2 separate regions of the Homo sapiens genome follow, and region 1 is linked to region 2. The links come from fine-mapping of genetic effects on gene expression. A gene starts in region 2. The other region holds a variant in brackets. All regions are shown on one strand. Distances are between the middles of the regions.

The links.
Region 1: its variant is fine-mapped to the expression of MRPL51 in regulatory T cells (Bossini-Castillo 2019, PIP 0.91).

The regions. Positions count from the first base shown.
Region 1 is chr12:6,466,931-6,478,234 of GRCh38, forward strand. VAMP1 (vesicle associated membrane protein 1) reads right to left here and starts at 3,747. Exons shown (of 5, transcript NM_014231.5): 1 at 3,600-3,747. The coding sequence starts at 3,601. It also overlaps a transcript of TAPBPL not described here and the pseudogene PKP2P1. RefSeq lists silencers at 3,229-3,278, 3,779-3,828, 4,039-4,298. The variant A/G (reference allele first, on the strand shown) is at 4,218.
Region 2 is chr12:6,486,447-6,497,132 of GRCh38, forward strand. It overlaps MRPL51 (mitochondrial ribosomal protein L51), which reads right to left and starts at 6,816. Exons shown (of 3, transcript NM_016497.4): 1 at 6,612-6,816; 2 at 6,416-6,526; 3 at 5,440-6,021. The coding sequence starts at 6,690. The coding sequence ends at 5,825. It overlaps NCAPD2 (non-SMC condensin I complex subunit D2), which reads left to right and starts at 7,656. Exons shown (of 32, transcript NM_014865.4): 1 at 7,656-7,708; 2 at 8,630-8,779. The coding sequence starts at 8,653. RefSeq lists enhancers at 7,034-7,083, 7,251-7,848 and a silencer at 7,284-7,613.

The DNA of each region.
Region 1 (11,304 bases), 19 kb before region 2:
GGGGCCCATCTTTCCGGTGCTATTCTGGTGATAGTGACGAAGTCTCATGAGATCTGATGGGTTTATCAGTGGTTTCTGCTTTTGCTTCTTCCACATTTTCTCTTGCTGCTGCCATGTAAGAAGTGCCTTTCACCTGCCGCCATGATTCTGAGGCCTTCCCAGCCATGTGGAACTGTAAGTCCAATTAAACCTCTTTTTCTTCCCAGTCTTGGGTATGTCTTTATCAGCAGCATGAAAACAGACTAATACAGTAAATTGGTACCAGTAGAGTGGGGTGTTGCTGAAAAGATACCCAAAAATGTGGAAGCGACTTTGGAACTGGGTTAACAGGGAGAGGATGGAACAGTTTGGAGGGCTCAGAAGAAGACAGGAAAATGCGGGAAAGTTTGGAACCTCCTAGAGACTTGTTGAATGGCTTTGACAAAAATGCTGTTAGTGATATGAACAATAAGGTCCAGGCTGAGGTGGTCTCAGATGGAGATGAGGAACTTGTTGGGAACTGAAGCAAAGGTGACTCTTGTTATGTTTTGGCAAAAAGACTGGCAGCATTTTGCCCCTGCCCTAGAAATTTGTGGAACTTTGAACTTGAGAGAGATAATTTAGGGTATCTGGCAGAAGAAAAGACGCAGTACTAAAGAAAAAAACCATTTTTTTGAGAAGAAATTCAAGGCAGCTGCAGAAATTTGCATAAGTAGCAAGGAACCTAGTGTTAGCCCCTAAGACCATGGGGAAAATGTCTCCAGGCCATGTCAGAAGCCTTCATAGCAGCCCCTCCCATCACAGGCCTGGAGGCCCAGGAGGAAAAAGTTATTTTGTGGGCCAGGCCCAGGGTCCCCATGCTGTGTGCAGCCTAGGGACTTAGTGCCCTGTGTCCCAGCCGCTCCCACTGTGGCTGAGAGGGGCCAATGCAGGGCTCGGGCCGTGGCTTCAGAGGGTGGAAGCCCCAAGCCTTGGCAGCTTCCACATGGTGTTGAGCCTGCAGATGCACAGAAGGCAAGAACTGAGGTTCGGGAACCTCCGTCTAGACTTCAGAAGATGTATGGAAACGCCTGGATGTCCAGGCAAAAGTTTGCTGCAAGGGCAGGGCCCTCATGGAGAACCTCTGCTAGTGTAGTACAGAAGGGACATGTGGGGTTGGAGCCCCCACACAGAGTCCCCACTGGAACACTGCCTAGTGGAGCTATGAGAAAAAGGTCACCATTCTCCAGACCCCAGAATGGTAGATCCACTGGTAGCTTGCACCGTGCGCCTGGAAAAGCCACAGACACTCAATGCCAGTCCGTGAAGGGAGCCAGGAGGGAGGCTGTACACTGTAATGTCTGTCAGCTCACCCCTTTTTATATTCAAGTTATTGGTTATGGTTATTGGTTTATATGCCCAGTTATTGGTTATGCTTCACACAAGATGAGGAAATCAGGGCTGCCATAAGGGCAGCTTGGAAAATCACCAAAGGCAAAGTCTATGTAGGTGGAGTGAGTCAGGACTGTTTGTTTGCTTTGTTTTTGGCAGAGAAAATGGGGGTTTCACTTAGATAGAATCTGGGGCCCAAAGCAATTACATTAGTTATGGAAACTGTTCCAAGAGCATAGACAGGAAGCAAAAATGCTAGAAATTGTCCTCAATGTGCATGCATTATAGACATTCTGTCCCTTCCTTTTCTGGATTTGACAGTCTCAGATGACTCCCTTGGTTACTTACATCCCAAAGAGAGATCTTGGTTTACTGTACTATACACACAGAGAATGTTCTCTCATTCTGTACCACTCAAAGTTAGTGTGTGGTCTTCAAGACAAACTCCTCTCCATGTCCCAAAACATGGAGGCTAAACTCACCTCCTAAAGAATTCCCAGAAGTATAACCTAAGTCATGAGATGTTCTCGGCCAAGGAAGCACCCACAGGCAGGGGGGAGATCTCTCAAATTTGATGGAGAATAGAAATTACAGTAAGAACTCCTCAAACAGAAGCAGAATCTCACCAAACATACTTCACAGGAGCAGTCCAAGAGTAAATGCAACAAAAATGAAACCACAAAGTCACCTAAAAGGAAATTATTTGACTAATTACAATAGAACTAATACCCAGAAGCTCATTCTCCTTGATTAAGTGAATTTCTTTTAGTCTAAAAAGATAGAGAATAACTCCTCAGAGAGGCTATGGTAGCAGATTACACCTGACTCATTCCCCATTTGAAGAATCACTTTTCCATTTCCCTCTAAGGTGCAAAGGAGGTAAAGCAAAGATAGACACAAAGTCATGGGAGCCACAAGACTCTTGTCCTGCCACTGAGCTAGCTAAGCAATCTAGCTCTCGACTTAAGGCAGAAAATTCAATGAGTAGGTAGCAGCCAGTGTTGGAAGCAGTCCAGGATGGTAGCACCAATGACAAGATTAAGGTCAGAGACCTCGTGATGCCCCGCTAGCCACCACGATTTTTCTGTTGCCTTCTGTTCATCCCACGTAGATACTATCTGGAAGCCCCCTCCCCAAAATGAAAACAACTGGAATTCTACGGCTTGCCCAAAATGCATAGAACACTCATATCTGGTTAAAACCATAGAAATCAAAAAGAAAAAGTGAAATGGCTATGAAGTATTTGCAAGGCCAATTTCACTTACTACTTGTTGGGAGTTGGAAACACTCAACAGTAAAATATCTAGGGATAATTACAACCCTTATGTAACACAAGTAAATCTTTCCCTTTTTTGTCACTTAGAGAAGCAACATAAATACATCTAGGACCAGGCCAGGGTAGTAATCAGAAAGAAAAATCTGTATTAGACATATTGAGGTCTTGACAGAGAAGTACTTCGTTTGTTTAGCCGTAGTTTTCCCTCAAGATCATGCGAAGGGGGTGATGTTGAAGACTGCTGGAGACTAAACTGTGTGTGTTGGAGGAAAGGGGGAAAGCTCAGCTCTCCCTATTTCTCCTCCAACTATTTGGTAAGACTCGGTGATAGAAAAACATCTCCTATACGAATGGCCTTGGTATGAACAGCCGCTTGGGATGACAGGCCACTATCCCACTACCCCTTGAGTCTTTCTGAGCTGCTCACCTGGTGCCAGAGAACTGGCAGATAAGTTTCTGCAGCTTTGCTCACTGCCATGAGGGGGGCTAGACATCACACTTTGGGTGAGGGGTAAACAAATCCAGAGATTGTAGGGCAACATAAGTTACCAACTGGCAGTTGCACCCATGACTGTCTTTCCTGAGGCGCTGAGTAGTGATTTAGCCAGATGACAGAAATACCTTTCGAGTCCCCTGCCCAGTTGTCTCCATCCACCACCCCCAGCCCCCGCCCTCTCCGAGTCTCCACTATACCAAAACCAGAATGAGGCGCCACTCAGACGAGAGGAGAGGGTGCAATGATTGTGGGACCCCTGCGCCCCTGCCCCGCCCGTGGGGTGCTAGCTGTGGCTGGTGCGAGAATGGGGTGCTGGCCCCCCTCCCTGGGGGTGGCCCGGTCCGGAAGCGGCGCGCGGTGGTAGTTCCCCGCGTTGCTGCAGCTGCTGCATTGCGCCATTTTCCGTCCCGCAGAATCGGGAGCTTGGGGCGAGAGTTGTCAAGGAGGTGCCGAGCCCCCACACCAGAGTCAACTCACATTTTTCTGACAGAGAGAGTGAGGGTCTGTTCCTCTCCGGAGGCTGCGGCGAGACACCCGGTGAGGGACGCTGCGGCTGAAGTGGACGGAACTGCCAAGCTCCGCCTCGCGCCGACTACCCCGCGGTCTAGCTGCGCTGGAACTTACTGCAGCTGCCGCGCCGGCCTCCGCCTTTATTAGTGCTGACCACGCCTCCCGGATAACGGTGACAACCCCGCGGCCCAATCCATGCCCAGGACGGTCGCCCAGCGCTACAGGCCTAGCCCGCCCCGCCCCTGCCAATTGCCAGTCACAACTCTCCTCTCATCCGACTCCGGAAAGGAGCGGTTGCTGTGAGGATCCTTCAGTGATCAATGCGACCATAGTTTGCGCTCCAGTCTGGCGGAGGGACGGGGCGGGGTGGAGATGAGGTCTGTCCCTTCGGAGGGCGCTTCAGCAGTTTGTTAGGCATTTGTGGTGCCTCCCAACCAATCGCTAGGCAGTTACTGAAGACCGTGCCCGCCCCTGCCCCACCCCGCGCCGGGACTCGCGCATTCAGCTGGAGGCGGCGGCTTCCTGGTGCGCGCCCAGCCCTGGTGCCCTGCTCTGGCCCTCGCTCCGCACCACCGCCCCGCCTCT[A/G]ACTAACGCTCTGAGAGGGTGCAGGAGCCTCGAGACACAGCCACAAGCTCCTGGTGCCAGATACCGGATGCGGGGTTCCGTCCCACCAAAGCAAGCACGAAGCTTTCGTTCATTCGTTTCTTTCAACATAGCCTTCCTAAATTGAACTCCCTCCCAAACCTGCTCCAGTCGAGGTTACCACATCGACTCAGTTGCCCAGACCAGAAACGTGGAAACCATCCTAGATTTCCTCCCCTTCACCTTTACCTCTCCCCCAGTAATCTGCCAAATCGAGTTGATTTTTCCTTCTTGGCATTCCAGTGATTATCTCCCCTCTGCTCACTATTATCCCTTTCCTGGACTCCATCAGTTGGAAAATTCACCATTATTTTATGTCCCGCTAAGAAAAAAGGTTACAAGGCCGGGCGCAGTGGCTCACACCTGTAATCCCAGCACTTTGGGAGGCCGAGTCAGGCAGATTACCTGAGATCAGGAGTTCGAGACCAGCCTGGCCAACATGGCGAAACCTCTGTCTCTACTAAAAATACAAAACAGCCAGGCATGGTGGCGGGCGCCTGTAATCCCAGCTACTCGTGAGGCTGAGATAAGAGAATCGCTTGAAGCCGGGAGCCGACGGTTGCAGTGAGCCGAGATCACGCCACTGCACTCCAGCCTGGGCAACAGAGCAAGACCCTGTTTCAAAAAAAAAAAGAAAAAAGGTTGCAAATTATCTGTGACAAATGCTTTCCTTACCACTTAGCATTTTTGTTTTACATGTATTGAAAATATGGGTTTATATACATACCGATTTCTATATTTCACTCTTGTGCATGCATAAAAAGGGAAATAGAAAACAATAACATGGTAACTATCCCTAAAACTTCACAGAGACTGATTGTTAATGATTCACTTTTTTGACTCAGTCTTGGATGTCCACTAATTTCCACGCAATGTAGTCCTCTGTGCATTTCATAAGGGCTTTGGTGATGCAGCATTTCCTAAGAGTGTTCCTCTCCAGGCTCTAGAGTTTTCTTCCAAGCCTCAGACACCCATTTGGCAAGCTTTGATGCTCATGAGCAGGTATGACAAATATAGTTTGACTGCTGTCTGACTAATAGCTAAAGTGAAACATCCCAATTAGAAGATATTGAAATGCAAAAAAACAAACAAACAAGCACACACAAAAAACCCAAGTGCCTCCTAAGATCAATGATACATCATTCTGCTTCCAGTCTTGCCATCCTTTACATCTATTCTCTAAAAAGTCCACCAAAGTTATCTATCCAAATGTCACAAGTCTTCTTAAGGAAACAATTGCACTTGGAAACATAATGCATTCATCATATGTGTTTATCCCATTCTCCTCCTGAAACCACATCAAAATGGCAAGTTAGGGGGAAAAATGACAATTTGGGAAAATTTGCAAAAAATTATAAGCCCCCAAAGACAAAAAGAATGGGGCCGGGCGTGGTGGCTCACTCCCGTAGTCCCAGCTATTTGGGGGGCTGAGGCGGAAGGACAGCTTGAGCCCAGATGTTCCGGTTGCAGTGAGCCGAGATCACGCCACTGCACTCCCACCTGGGTGACAAAATGAGACCCTATCTCCAAAAGAAAAGAAAAAGGGCCAGGCGCAGTAACTCACACCTGTAATCCCAGCAATGTGGGAGGCCAAGGAGGGCGGATCACTTGAAGCCAGGAGTTCAAGACCAACCTGGCTAACGCAGCAAAATCCCGTCTCTACTAAAAATACAAAAATTAGCTGGGCATGGACGCCTGTAGTCCCAGCTACTCGGGAGACTGAGGCAGGAGGATCACTTGAACCCGGGAGGCGGAGGCTGCAGTAAGCCGAGATCTTGCCACTGCACTCCAACCTGGGCAACAGAATGAGACTGTCTCAAAAAAAAAAAAAAAAAGAAAGAAAGAAAGAAAAAGAAAAGAAAAAAGAATGGGAGGAAATATTTCTGGCAGCATGAATGCCTATTTATTCCCACCAACTTTCCCCTGAAAAAAAACTTAAAATCATTGAATGGTGACTCACGCCTATAATCCCAGCATTTTGGGAGGCCAAAGCAGGAGGATCACTTGAGCCCAGGAGTTCAAGACTAGCCTGGACAACATGGTGAAATCCTGTCTCTACAAGAAATAGATACAAAAAAATATAGCTGGGTATTGTGGCACACACCTGTAGTTCCAACTACTTGGGAGGCTGAGGTGGGAGGATTACCTGAGCCTGAGGAGGTCAAGAAAGCAGTGAGCCATGATCACACCATTGCACTCCAACCTGGGCAACAGAGTGAGACCCTGTCTCAAAAAAACGGGGTTGAGGGGGTGGCATTTTTTAAACTTTTTTTTTTTTTTTTTGAGACGGAGTCTCCCTCTGTCGCCCACGCTGGAGTGCAGTGGCGCTATCTCGGTTCACTGCAAGCCCCACCTCCTGGGTTCACGCCATTCTCCTGCCTCAGCCTCCTGAGTAGCTGGGACTACAGGCACCCGCCACCACGCCCGGCTAATTTTTTGTATTTTTAGTAGAGACAGGGTTTCACAGTGTTAGCCAGGATGGTCTCGATCTCCTGACCTCATGATCCACCCGCCTCGGCTTCCCAAAGTGCTGGGATTACAGGCGTGAGCCACCGCGCCCGGCCTTAAACTTTTTATTTTAAAGTAATTATAGATTCATATAAGGTGGCCAAAAAAAAAAAATACAATACAGGGAGGTTCCCCTAAACCCCTTTACCCAGTTCCCCCAACAGTAACATCTTGTATAAATACAGTTTAAAATTATTAAAATATTAAAACCAGGAAATTATCATTAGCAAAATCCAGAGTTTATTCAAATTTCACCGATTTTCCAAACTGGCATGTACCACCAAACACTTCTTTTTGTGTTCGTGTGTGTTTGAGTGGTTTTATGCAATTGTATCATGTGTAGATTTGTGTAACCACAACCACAGTTAGGATACAGCATTTTCACATTACTGCAAGGCTCCCATGTGCTACCCCTTTATATTCCAACCCACCGCCATCCCTAAACCTTAGCAACACTAATTTGTTCTCCATCTCTGTAACTTTATTTCAAGAGCCTTATGTAAATGTAGTCATGCTTTTTTCTATATCACGTAACCTTTCAAGATTGGCTTTTTTCATTCATCCAAGTTATTGTGTGTATCATTACTTTTTCAACCATCCAAGTTATTGTGTGTATCATTAGTTTTCACCACTGATTAATATTCCGTGGTACATTTAACCATTTACCTGCTGAAGGACATTTGGAGTGATTTCAGCACTGGGCTATTACAAATAAAGTTGCTGTGAACTTTCATACAGGTTTTGTGTGAACATAAATTCTCATTTCTCTGGGATAAATGCCTGAGTGCAATGCTTGGGCAGTAAGGTAATTGCATCTCTAGTTTTATAAGAAACTGCCTTTGCCTGTGTTGCCCAGGCTGGTCTTAAACTCCTGAGCTCAAGCAATTCTCCCACTTCAGCTTCCCAAGTAGCTAGGACTATAGGCATCATGCCCAGCTGTATTTTTCTTATTTTAACCATTCTAATATGTGTTCAGTGCTATCATTGTGGTTTTAATTCTTATTTCACTGATGGCTAATGATATCAAATATCTTTTAAAGTGTTTGCCTTGTATATATTATCCTATTTGATGAAATGTTGGTTCATGTCTTTTGGCCATTTTCTTTTTTTTTTTATTGATCATTCTTGGGTGTTTCTCGCAGAGGGGAATTTGGCAGGGTCATAGGACAATAGTGGAGGGAAGGTCAGCAGATAAACAAGTGAACAAAGGTCTCTGGTTTTCCTAGGCAGAGGACCCTGCGGCCTTCCGCAGTGTTTGTGTCCCTGGGTACTTGAGATTAGGAAGTGGTGATGACTCTTAAGGAGCATGCTGCCTTCAAGCATCTGTTTAACAAAGCACATCTTGCACCGCCCTTAATCCATTTAACCCTGAGTGGACACAGCACAGGCCGCAGAGAGCACAGGGCTGGGGGCAAGGTCACAGCTCAACAGCATCCCAAGGCAGAAGAACCCCTCCCAGTACAGAACAAAATGAAGTCTCCCAAGTCTACTTCTTTCTACACAGACACAGCAACAATCTGATTTCTCTATCTTTTCCCCACCTTTCCCCCTTTTCTATTCCACAAAACCGCCATCGTCATAATGGCCCGTTCTCAATGAGTTGTTGGGTACACCTCCCAGACGGGGTGGTGGCCGGGTAGAGGGGCTCCTCACTTCCCAGAAGGGGTGGCCGGGCAGAGGCGACCCCCACCTCCCTCCCGGACGGGGCGGCTGGCCGGGCGGGGGCTGACCCCCCACCTCCCTCCCGGACGGGGTGGCTGCCAGGCAGAGACGCTCCTCACCTCCTAGACGGGGTCACGGGCGGGCAGAGGCGCTCCCCACATCTCAGACGATGGGCGGCCGGGCAGAGACGCTCCTCACTTCCTAGACGGGATGGCGGCCGGGAAGAGGTGCTCCTCACTTCCCAGACTGGGCAGCCGGGCAGAGGGGCTCCTCACATCCCAGATGATGGGCGGCCAGGCGGAGACGCTCCTCACTTCTCAGACAGGGTGGCTGCCGGGCGGAGGGGCTCCTCACTTCTCAGATGGGGCAGCTGCCGGGCGGAGGGGCTCCTCACTTCTCAGACGGGGCAGCCAGGCAGAGACGCTCCTCACCTCCTAGACGGGGTCACGGCCAGGCAGAGGCGCTCCCCAAATCTCAGACGATGGGCGGCCGGGCAGAGACGCTCCTCACTTCCTAGACGGGATGGCGGCCGGGAAGAGGTGCTCCTCACTTCCCAGACTGGGCAGCCGGGCAGAGGGGCTCCTCACATCCCAGACGATGGGCGGCCAGGCGGAGACGCTCCTCACTTCCCAGACGGGGTGGCGGCTGGGCAGAGGCTGCAATCTCGGCACTTTGGGAGGCCAAGGCAGGCGGCTGGGAGGTGGAGGTTGTAGCTAGCCGAGATCATGCCACTGCACTCCAGCCTGGGCAACATTGAGCACTGAGTGAACAAGACTTGGTCTGCAATCCCGGCACCTCGCGAGGCCTTCTGAGTAGCTGGTACTACGGGCGCCTGCCACCATGCCTGGCTAATTTTTGTATTTTTAGTAGAGACGGGGTTTCACCATATTGGCCAGGCTGATCTCGAACTCCTGACCTCAGATGATCTGCCAGCCTCAGCCTCCCAAAGTGCGGGATTACAGGCGCGAGTCTTGTATTTCTTTTAAAATCAATCTCACACACACCCTTTTTTCTCCCTCTCCCTCACATATCCTGTTTTCTCTTTTTAGACATCGGACTATTAATTAGATATTGGACTATTTGGCTTAATTTTCTAATTATCTTTCTTATTTCCTGTCTCCATCTCTGCTGGTTCTTGTTCTTGGTGCCTTGTTCCTTATTTGTTTGGAATTTTTGACCACAATTTATTTTTCTTGGAACTGTATCTGTGGAAATTCCCCGAGGCCTAGATTAAAGATGAGTTCATCCAGAAAGGATCTGCATTGCTTCTGCTGGGTTCTTGGTGGTACTGTCAATCCAAAACCACTTTAAATTCTTGCCATTTTCTTTTTAGGATCAACAAAGAGTTCAGGCAGAAACACCACAGCCTGTGGTTATACATTCTCTGCAAATACTTAAAAGAAAAAAATAAAAGAACTCCAGCAGGCACCTGGGTTCCAGACAAACAACATTCCACGGAGTGCTCTGGGGCAGTTTGGGTTCTAGTATATTCGTAATTCATTCTTAGATGAGGATATAGTCCTTTGGGGTTCTGACTTTATGGTAAGGACTTTCTATTAGATTTCCAACCTTGGGTAAGCCCTGGGCTTTATTTCCTGTGCCACAGTGGTAGCCTGTGAGGCTGCTACGCTCATATTAAACTTTATAGCAAATACCCTCAGAGCAAAATAGTCTTTGGGACTCAGCAACTTCCCTGGTTACTGGCTTTCACTTAGTTTTTCGTGTTTAAATAGTCTTTACTCTCAGGCCAACTCATAAATAGATTTTATCTATAGAAGAACAAAGAAGAATAAAATAGGAGGAATAACTATCTCATGCTTACTACTATATAGTTGCAGTAATCAAGACAGTGTGGTATTGGTGGGAGGACAGACACATAGATCGATGGCACCGATGAGAGAATGCAGAAATAGACCCCTACAAATATGCGCATCTGATTTTTTTTTTTTTTTTTTTGAGACAGAGTCTTGCTCTGTCGCCAGGCTGGAGTGCAGTCATGCAATCTCGGCTCACTGCAACCTCTGCCTCCCAGGTTCAAGCGATTCTCCTGCCTCAGCCGACCAAGTAGCTGGGACTACAGGCGTGCGCCACCACGCCCAGCTAATTTTTTGTATTTTTAGTAGAGACGGGGTTTCACCGTGTTGGCCAGGATAGTCTGGATCTCTTGACCTCGTGATTCGACTGCCTTGGCCTCCCAAAGTGCTGGGATTACAGGCGTGAACCACCATGCCTGGCCTTCTGTATTTTTTAAGATTCCTATCTGGAGAGCCCCCAGCTCTGCGGCGGCTTCACCCGCGAGTCCCAAGGCAAGCGAGCGGCTGGGTCGCCCCCACCGGCCCCATGGCAGCCCCCGGGGCCCCAGCTGAGTACGGCTACATCCGGACCATCTTGGGCCAGCAGATCCTGGGACAACTGGACAGCTCCAGCCTGGCGCTGCCCTCTGAGGCCAAGCTGAAGCTGGCTGGGAGCAGCGGCCGCGGCAGCCAGTCAAGAGCCTGCGGATCCAGGAGCAGGTGCAGCAGATCCTCGCCCGGAAGGGCCGCAGCTCCGTGGGCAACGGAAATCTTCACCGAACCAGCAGTGTTCCTGAGTATGTCTACAACCTACACTTGGTTGAAAATGATTTTGTTGGAGGCCGTTCCCCTGTTCCTAAAACCTATTACATGCTAAAGGCTGGCACAACTGCCACTTATGAAGGTCGCTGGGGAAGAGGAACAGCACAGTACAGCTCCCAGAAGTCCGTGGAAGAAAGGTATTTGAGGCATCCTCTGAGGAGACTGGAGATTTCTCCTGACAGCAGCCCGGAGAGGGCTCACTACACGCACAGCGATTACCAGTACAGCCAGAGAAGCCAGGCTGG
Region 2 (10,686 bases):
ACAGGTGCCCGCCACCATGCCCAGCTAATTTTTGTATTTTTAGGAGAGATGGGCTTTCACCATGTTGGCCAGGCTGATCTCGATCTCCTGACCTCAAGTGATCCGCTCACCTCTGCCTCCCAAAGTGCTGTGATTACAGGTGTGAGCCACCACCCGTTGTTTTTTTTTTTTTTTTTTGAGACAGAGTTTTGTTCTTGTTGCTGGCAGGGATTACATGCGTGAGCCACCGTGGCTGGCCCTATTTTTTTTTTTTTTTTTTTTAGAGAGAGAGATAGGCTCTTGCTCTGTTTCCCAGGCTGGAGTGCACTGATGTGATCATAGTTCACTGCAGCCTTGAACTCCTGGGCCCAAGCCATCCTCCCACCTCAGCCTCTCAAGTAGCTAAGACGACAGGCACTCACCAGAACTACAGGTACTCACCAACCTACCCAGCTATTTTTTTCTTTTTATTTTTTAGAGGCAGGGTCTCACTATGTTGCCCAGGCTGGTCTCAAACTCCTGGCCTCAAGTGATCCTCCCCTCCCGCTTGGCCTCCAAAAGTGTTGGGATTACAGGTGTGAGCCACTACGCTGGCCAGTACCTCATTTTACAGCTTAATAATATTCCATTGTCAGTGTGCAGGAAGGAGTGTTAAAAAGAAAGTTAAAAAAATAATATTCCATATTCTGGTTGGGTGTGGTGGTTCACGCCTGTAATCCCAGCACTTTGGGAGGGCAAGGTAGGTGGATCACGAGGTCAGGAGATCGAGACCACCCTGGCTAACACGGTGAAACCCCGTCTGTACCAAAAATGCAAAAAATTAGCCGGGCGTGGTGGCAGGTGCCTGTAGTCCCAGCTATTCAGGAGGCTAAGGCAGGAGAATGGTGTGAACCTGGGAGGCGGAGCTCGCAGTGAGCCGAGATCGGGCCACTGCACTCCAGCCTGGGCGACAGAGCGAGACTCTGTCTCAAATAATAATAATAATAATATTCCATATTCTATTGTATGGATAGACCACATTTTGTGTATCCATTCACCAGCTGACGGATATTTGGATTGTTTCTTCTTTTTAGCTATTATGAATAATGTTGCTAAGGAGATTTATGTACAAGTGTTTGTGTGGACATATGTTTTCAGTTTTCTTGGGTATAAACCTAGGAGTGGAATTACTGGGTCATGCAGTAACTCTACACTTAACTTTTTGTGGAACTGCCACTTTTCCAAAGTGGCTGCACCATTTTACTAAAGGCTAAATTTTTTTTTTTGAGATGGAGTCTCACTCTGTCGCCCAGGCTGGAGTGCGGTGGTGCGATCTCAGCTCACTGCAAACTCCGCCTCCTGGGTTCACGCCATTCTCGCGCCTCAGCCTCCCAAGTAGCTGGGACTACAGGTGCCCGCCACCATGCCAGGCTAATTTTTTGTATTTTTAGTACAGATGGGGTTTCACCGTGTTAGCCAGGATGGTCTCGATCTCCTGACCTCGTGATCTGCCTGTCTCAGCCTCCCAAAGTGCTGGGATTACAGGCGTGAGCCACCGCGCCCGGCCCCCTAAAGGCTAAATTTTAATAATCATTACAATCTTCAGGATCTGACTCTTGCTTCCCATCTCTTTCCCTGTCTTTTACCACAAGCAGTAGCTCCACCAGTAAATACCACTCATAGCTTTCTCATGCACACCATGCTGTTTCTTGACTCTAGGCCTTTATTTCTGCTTCAACTGCCTGGAAAAACTGCTAGCCTCCACTCCCTTAAGACAACTCAGTGGTCACCTCTTCTCTAAAGCCCTTCTCGTCCCCATTCCTGCTTCCTCAGGAAAAGATAGGTGTCTCTTCCTCTCCACACCTATACACATAGCTATTAACAAACTTTAAATGTCATGACATACTGGATTTCATAACTATGCTTCTTCATCTGCCTCTTGCACTGGGTGGAATTCTTTTTTCCTTTTTTTTTTTTTTAAAGGCAGGATCTTGCTATGTTGCCCAGGCTAGAATGTAGTGGCCTGATCTCAGCTCACTGCCACCTCCACCTGCTGGGCTCAAGCCATCCTCCCCCCTCAGCCTCCTGAGTAGCTGGAATTACAGGCATGTGCCATCATGCCCAGCTAATTTGTTTTTTGTATTTTTTTAGTAGAGATGGGGTTTCACCACTTTGGCCAAGCTGGTCTTGAACTCCTGACCTCAAGTGATCTGCTCACCTCGGCCTCCCAAAGTGCTGGGATTACAAGCATGAGCCACTGCTCCTGGCCTCAAGAGCTCATTCTAATGCCATCTTTTCAACAAATACCTTTTCTGATCATCCCCCTCAGCAAAAAAAAAAAAGAAAAAAAAAACCTGTCATGGGACTCGCTTTCATTATCATATTTAAATTTACATTTTGTTTACATACACATCTCTTCTTTTTTTCTTTTTTCCAGTCTTACCCCTGTATAAACTGGATGAAGCTGCTGCCAATTTAACCAAGTGGGAATCCCAGTGCTAATTGTCTGCTGGATGGGATATCTTTATTGGAGCAGATTAACATAGCCTCACATTTGTGGTTTGTGACCACTGATTTAGCAAATACATTGTTTTTCTTTTTTCTTTTTCTTTTTCTTTTGAGACAGGGTCTTGCTTTGTTGCCTAGGCTGAAGTGCAGTGTCACAAGCTCAGCTCACTGCAGCCTCGACCCCCAAGGCTCAAGCAATCCTTCCACCCAGCCTCCACAGCAGCTGGGACTACAGGCACATGCCACCAACGCCTGGCTAATTTTTTTTTTTTTTTTTTGTGGAGACAGCATTTCACCATGTTGCCCAGGCTGATCTCGAATTCCTGGGCTCAGCTGATCCTCTCGCCTCAACCTCCCAAAGTGTTGGGATTACAGGTGTGAGCCACTGCACCTGGCGAACATCCTTTTCTTTTTTGTTTTTTTCCTTTGAGACAGAGTTTCGCTCTTGGTGCCCAGGCTGGAGTACAATGGCACGATCTTGGCTCACTGCAACCTCCACCTCCCGAGTTCAAGCGATTCTCCTGCCTCAGCCTCCTGAGTAGGTGGGATTACAGGCATGTGCCACCAGGCCCAGCTAATTTTGTATTTTTAGTAGTCAGGGTTTCTCCATGTTGGTCAGGCTGGTCTCGAACTCCTGACCTCAGGTGATCCGCCCACCTTGGCCCCCCAAAGTGCTGGGATTACAGGCCTGAGCCAGCATGCCCAACCAACATTCTTTTCTAAAGCATGTTGGTCAGAAGCAGTCCACCACGGAGGGGATGAACAACAGTATACAGTCATGGTCTTTCATCAGGGCTATGTTAATTCTGTTCTCTGTCATGATGTAATCTAAAAAATGTGGACCATTTGCACATTCTGCAGAGTATCACATTGGTCCACCATCTTGTAACTTTACATCCTTCAGACGTCTTTTTTTTTTTTTTTTTCTTTTTTTAAAGACAGAGTCTCCCTCTGTTGCCCAGGCTGAAGTGCATGGTGCAATCTCAGCTCACTGCAACCTCTCTGTCTCCCGGATTCAAGCGATTCTCCTGCCTCAGCCTCCCGAGTAGCTGGGATTACAGGCACACACCACTATACCTGGCTAATTTTTTTGTATTTTTAGTACAGACGAGGTTTCACCATGTTGGCCAGGATGGTCTTGATCTCCTGACCTCGTGATCCGCCCACCTAGGCCTTCCAAAGTGCTGGGATTACAGGTGTGAGCCACCGGACATCTTTTAAGTAGAATGAAGACTACTTAGAGGTAGGAACCAACCCTACCTTGGTGATTTTTGTTCCTCCAAATATCTTTGCACATAATAATTCAATATTTATTCAAAGAAAACGTTATATACTGTTTCATACCACAAACAAGATTGTTCTGTCCTTGAAAACAAAACCTTTTGTATCTTTGAATCAGGAAATATTCTATAAATGCCTATTGACCTATTAATTTCCTCTTCCCTAACAATCAGATACTCTACCAGGATATGTAGATATCTTCTTCAGGGCACCTTGCACTTAGCAGAGTCCCAAATATTTTATTTTCTCCACTCTAGCACCACCAAATCATGTAAAGTATACAGCCACTCACATTTCACATCAACTTCTCCATTCTTATGCATAGCTCCTTCCAGCCACCCCTCTGAAAACTGACTCTCCTAAACATTTCCGTAAGACCCAGGATCATGTTTTCATATATACCCATCAATCCATTTATCCAAAACCCACTTGTAATTTAACAAGTGCTTTTTATTTTTATTGAAGATGGGGTCTTGCTATGTTCCTAAGGCTGGCCTCCAACTCCTGGTTTCAAAGGATCCTCCCACCTCAGCCTGCAGAGTAGCTGGGATTATAAGTGTGCTCCAACCACCATGCCCCGCAACAAGTATTTATTAATCTAACTTCACTTTTATGGAGTTTTTGTTTTTTAAAATATAGAGATGGGGTCTTGCTATGTTGCCCAGGCTGGTCTTGAACTCCTGGCTTCAAGCAATCCTCATGCCTTGGCCTCCCAAAGTGTTGGGCTTACAGGTGTGAGCCACTGCACCCAGCCCTAACTTCACTTTTTTTTTTTTTTTTTTTTTGAGACAGTCTCACCCCAGTTGCTCAGGCTGGAATGCAGTGGCATGATCTCAGCTCACTGCAGCCTCAAACTCCTGGGCTCAGGTGATCTTCCCACCTCAGCCTCTTGTGTAGCTGGGACTGCAGGCACGCAGAACCATGAGTAGCTGGAACTACAGGCATGCAGAACCATGCCCAGCTAAGTTGTTTTTTTTTTTTTTTTGAGACAGAGTCTTGCTCTGTTGCTCAGGCTGGAGTGCAGTGGCACGATCTCGGCTCACTGCAAGCTCCACCTCCCAGGTTCAAGTGATTCTCCTGCCTCAGACACCTGAGTAGCTGGGACTACAGGTGTCCGCCACCACTCCTGGCTAATTTTTTTGTTTGTTTGTTTTTGTATTTTCAGTAGAGACAGGGCTGTGTTAGCCAGGATAGTCTCGATCTCCTGAGCTCGTGGTCCGCCCCCCTCCGCCTCCCAAGGTGCTGGGATTACAGGCAGGAGCCACCGCACCCAGCCACTTTATTTTTAGTAGAGACGGAGTTTCACCATGTCGCCCAGACCAGTCTCAAATTCCTGTCTCCAAGCAATCCTCCCACCTCAGCCTCCCAAAATGCTGGGATTACATGTGGGCACCATTCTGCCCAGCTGTAATTCTTAAAAATTATTATTAAAAAAGAACAAAACACATAGATGCCCTAGACTCAACTCAGCTCTACTGATCAATCTTTAGGGGTTAGGACTAGGCTTTTGAAATGTTAAAACACCCAGAAAACTGATGACCAGTCAGGCTTAGTATCCGCCATCTCTACCATTCATATGGTACTTAATGTTTCATATTTAAATGGAAAGGACACCTCACACTTTTTTGTTTTTCCTATAGTTCCTACTCAGAGAATATGCCTAATAAATATTTTATGAGAGTAGTACAGAAGTATGACTCCATTTTTCTCTTATATTTCATTTCAGTGTGGAAGGCTCTTTAGAAACACTATTAACATAACAGCATTATGTCAAAAAGCGCCAATAACATTCTCACCAACTTTTCTTTTTAAAGGAATTAGGTATAGCTAGACTGTAAAAGGCAAGTGGTGTGAAGCCCAAACCTAAGATCCTAAGATCTAGGATGAGTCAAGACTTCATAGTCTACATGAGTAGAGGCAGCATCTAGAGGAAAACAAAAGTATGTGGCTATCAAATTCCAAAGAAGCCCCATTTTATTACAGAGAAAATACAAAGCCGTTTCCTCACAGGGAAAAGTACAGTTTCCCTTCTCCAGGGTGACAGATGAGCCTTTTCCGAAGTTCTCAGCTTTCTCTTCTATCGAAACTTCCCATGTCGGTTAAAGTGTTTGTAGAGATAGCGGATGCGTTTATTAAGGTTGTGCAGGTCATCAGCGAACATTCTACTTCCAACCATTTTCCTCTTTCGGATACAACGTTGCAATTCATTCCCTTTCCAACCTCGAAGCCATATGGGCCCCCTGATCAGTTCTTTGGGGTGCTTTTCAAAGTTTCCTGTGTAATGTGAGAGAACACATTAGATCCAAGACAAGAGAACTCATCCTACACCAGCTAAGCTTTCAACCCACGGTTGCATCTTGCTGAGCAGCACCTATAGACAAGGAACATTACAGTACAGAACAATAGCACAGACTCTGGAGCCAGACTGCTTGGGGTTAAAATTCTGATGCTGCCATTTATTAACTTTGGAAAAACTGTTTATTTTTACTTATGAAGTAAAAATTATACGAGGGGACTCAGAACAGTGCCAAACACAATGTAAACAGCTACATAAGTGTTTGCTCTTACTATTGAGCACAGTACCACTCTCTACACAGGAGGAAAAGATAGTCGTTACAGCCTAATTGCCATTCTGAAATTGTGTACCACGTCGAAGGTCAAGTCTTACCCAGGATCCCGATGTTGTCATACACTCCGAACATGGCCCTTTTCTCGTTCCAACGATCAACCACTTTGGGGGGCGGGAGAGTGAGCCTTATACCGATCAATCTAGGCACACCTGGGGATGGGGAAGGGAGGGAATTAATCTGAGCCGCCTATTATACTACGAAGCAGTTATCGGGGTGCCTACATCAGCCACTTACCAAGAGAGAAGCTTCTGCACGCCAGAGGCACCCAGTCCCACAGGCGCCTACCTGCCCCGGATAAGAGGTTCCCTGCCATTTCTCTAGTCTCCCCCCTTCAACAGCACACCAAATAAGCCCAAGAAGATGACAGGAACCGTCCCCGCCAACTTCACACGAGTACTAAGGCGAAGACAGCCATCTTGGGCCTTACCCAGGCAGCTGTGGGCGCACCGCCCACCTACGCCCCATCCGCAACAGCCACGAGCCCCGCCCCCCGGGTTCCGGCAGGAGGGGCCTCTACCACCCTTCCCGCCTCAGTGCTTCCGGTCCGCCTGCCGGAAGTTTTGGAGCGCCGGACAAGCTGAGGTCCGCGACTCGTCGCTAAGATTCCCCAAAACTGAGATTTCAAGAAAATTCACCCTTTCCGCTTTCTTTGGCGTCCTTCAACCGTGAAGGAAATGAAGGTTGAGAACCTGGAACCCGCTTCCAATGACCAAGCCCTTTCTCTGTGCCTCACAACAGTCTTCCGCTGTAGCTGTTTTTATTACCCCTATTTTACTACTGGGGAGGAGATTTGAGGTCCTGAAAGTGAAGTGACTTGCTGGACGTCACTTAGCAGAGGAGATGGCGAAACCTGGATTAGAGGCGATGCCTTCTAACTCCCAGCGTGGACTTGCCTCCTTTCCTGGGGGTGACTGAATGCCCAGCCAGGGACGCGACGTCTCTGGCCAGCAGAAATACGGCCTCCTCCCCGCCGACTGGGCAAAGGGGGACCTTGCGGCCAAGGAGGGATTCGCAGGCGGGCCGGGGGTGGGAGCGGGGGCCGGAGCCGGAGCCTTGGCCCGCCCCCGGGCGGCGCTGTGATTGGCCGGCCGCTCCGGCGGGCGTCGCGATTGGCCGTCCTGCAGCCGTTGAGATTTGAACTCGGTATTTGTGGCTTTGCCCGCGCGTTGCCAGACTCAGAGGCGGCCCTTTGCCTCTGCCTGCCGGGGATTGGCCGGATTCTCCGCCGACTTGAAAACTGCCTTGCTAATTGGTGCGTGTTGTGCACGCGTGTTTTTTCCTTTTCATTTCAGCCTGACTGCCGGAATCAGAGCCGCGGGTGAGATCCCCAGGTAAGATGTGGTGTTGCAGGTCGTAAAAGAGTAGGAAAGTCGAGTACATGGCAGTGTGACCCAGTCTTGGGCAAAATACAATAGGCCTAGTAAGTATATCCCTGGGGCGCGATGTGTGAGAAACTGTAAGTCTGACAGATCCGCAACGGAAGTTGTTAAGCAAATCGCTTAACAGATCCGCAACGGAAGATGTTAAGCAAATCGCTTAACAGATCCGCAACGGAAGATGTTAAGCAAATCGCTTAACTTTCTTACTTCAATTTCCGCTCTGTAAACTCATTTGTATTATTATGCACCTCATGGGATTGAGGTTAGGATACTTAGATCAGATATGATACATGCAAACAGCCTAACAGACTTGGCACAGGATAAATAAATCATCATTGTTAATGCTCTTACCATTCTGGTGCAGGAAGCCCACTAGCCCATGCTGGGGCACTGTTTTGGCCTCAGACGAGATCAGACCATTCTCTCTATACTTAAGGAGCTTTGCACATAAAAATGGAAATAATAGTACTTTGCACATTAATATGCCACTTTATAGTTCTTTAAACACCTTCGTACTGCTTGATTTGTTTGATCATCAGAGCAACTTTGTGAAGTAATCAGAGTTTAGTAACCCTGTTTTTACAGATAAAGCCCAGAGGTTTAAGTGTCAAGACCAAGTGCCAAAGTCACTACTAGAATTAGTTTCTAGTCCAGGGTCAATCTCAGATCCCGTAAGATAATGTTACTAGCTTGCTATAAAACTAAAAACCATTATATATGTTGGGGGTGGGGAACTAACAAAACCAGATGATGTTACTAGCTTGCTATAAAACTAAAAGCCATTATATATGTTGGGGATGGGAAAGTAATAGAACCAGATACGAAGACAGGTCTTGAATATAGACCCTGACTTTTTCACTGTTTGGTTTCTAGCCCTGTGAGCCTGTAGGAGTAGAATGGCTCCCCAAATGTATGAGTTCCATCTGCCATTATCCCCAGAGGAGTTGTTGAAAAGTGGAGGGGTGAATCAGTATGTTGTGCAAGAGGTACTGTCCATCAAACATCTTCCACCACAGCTTAGAGGTAAGAGTCCATAGCTGTCACTGTACCTAGCTCTTTCAAAGGACCATCTCACATGGAATTGCTACATTGTCATTTCTGTTCCACTACACCAGGAAGCATCATAAGAGCAAGAAACATGTTTTTCCTATTTTGCTGTTTTATCCTAAAATTGCATGGGATGCATGACCCAAAGAGTACATTCATTAACTTCCTTTTCTGGATTAGTCAAAAACAGTCTTGGTGTATGTGATTACTCTTTGGGGAAAAGTTATTTTCCATCTTTACCCCTTACTGTGTGTCAAAATTAAGTCCTGGTGGATTTAAGAGTTATAGGAGTGGATCGCTTTTTCAGAATGTCTCGGACTTAACTCGACCTGTTTTTGGTAATACCTTTTTGGAGTCTTTTTGGATGTGCAATTATGGGGACAAAAACCCATAATATATATGTACCACTGCAACACTGAGCAATATATGTACAGTGCAGTCACCTACTGAAACCTGTAAATGATCAAAAGCACCTTTTGCATTACCAGAAAGACTTCATAATGTCCTTGTACTTGTTGGGAGCGGTCTTGTAGCAGTTAGCTTGCTTTGGAGAGGTATAGAGATTAAAGACTGGAGCCAGGCTGCCTGGATTTGAATCCTGGTTCTACCACTCTGACCTTAGACAAGTTACTTAATTGTCTCAGTGCCTTGGTTTCGTCATCTGTAAATATAGAGATAATAACCAATTCCTTTGTTATCACCTACAAGAAGAAGGGTTGGTTAATGCAGCAGCTCGACAATATGGTCCTAGCTTGTCTCCTCTTGGCTTTTCTTTCATGGTTGCTAGATTGCAACTTCTTTTTGTTTTTCTTTTTTTTTTTTTTTTGAGACAGGGTCTCACTCTGTTGCCCAGACTGGAGTGCAGTGATGCGATATCGGCTCACCACAACCTCTGCCTCCCCAGGCTCAAGCGATTCTCCTGCTTCAGCCTCCCAAGTAGCTAGGATTACAGGTGCACGCCACTACCACCTGGCTAATTTTTGTATTTTTAGTAGAGACGGGATTTCACCATGTTGGCCAGGCTGGTCTTGAACTCCTGACCTCACATGATCCACCCACCTTGGCCTCCCAAAGTGTTAGGATTATAGGCGTGAGCCACTGCACCAGTCTAGATGGCAGCTTCTTCCTCTAATGTCCAGAAGTGGAAAAAGGAATTTTCTTTTTGTACTTTTTATTCTTTATTTTATTTTGAAAGACAAGGTAAAGACTCTCTTGCCCAGGCTGGAGTCCAGTGGCATGATCACGGCTCACTGCAGCCTCAACTTCCCAGACTCAAGCAATCCTCTCACCTCAGCCTCCCAAGCAGCTGGGATCACAGACATGCACCACCATACCTGGCTAATTTTTAAATTTTCTGTAGAAACAGTGTCTCCCTATGTTGCCCAGGCTGGTCTCGAACTTCTGGGCTCAAGCAGTCTTCCCGCCTCAGCCTCCCAAAGTGCTGGGATTGCAGGCTGGAATGCAGTGGCCTGATCACAGCTCACTGCAGCCTCAATCTACCAGGCTCAAGCAGTCCTCCCACCTCAGCCTCCCAAGTAGCTGGGACCACAGACATGTACCAAAGTGCTGGGATTGTAGGCATGAGGCACCATGCTCGGCCAGACTTTTTTGTTAAAAACTAAAACACCTACACACATTAGCCTAGGCCTACACAGGGTCAAGGTCACCAAGAAGTCACTAGACGATGGGAATTTTTCAGCTGTATTATATTTTTATGACACCACTGTCGCATATGTGGTCTATTGTTTACCAAAATGTTACAGGGCACAGGACTGTACAGGTAAGAGAAATAGAATTACCCAGACTGGTTTAACTGATCAAGCTTATTACCTAGGAGCCTCCCTAAACTTGAGCATATCAACCATTTGGTAAGCAAGGAAGAA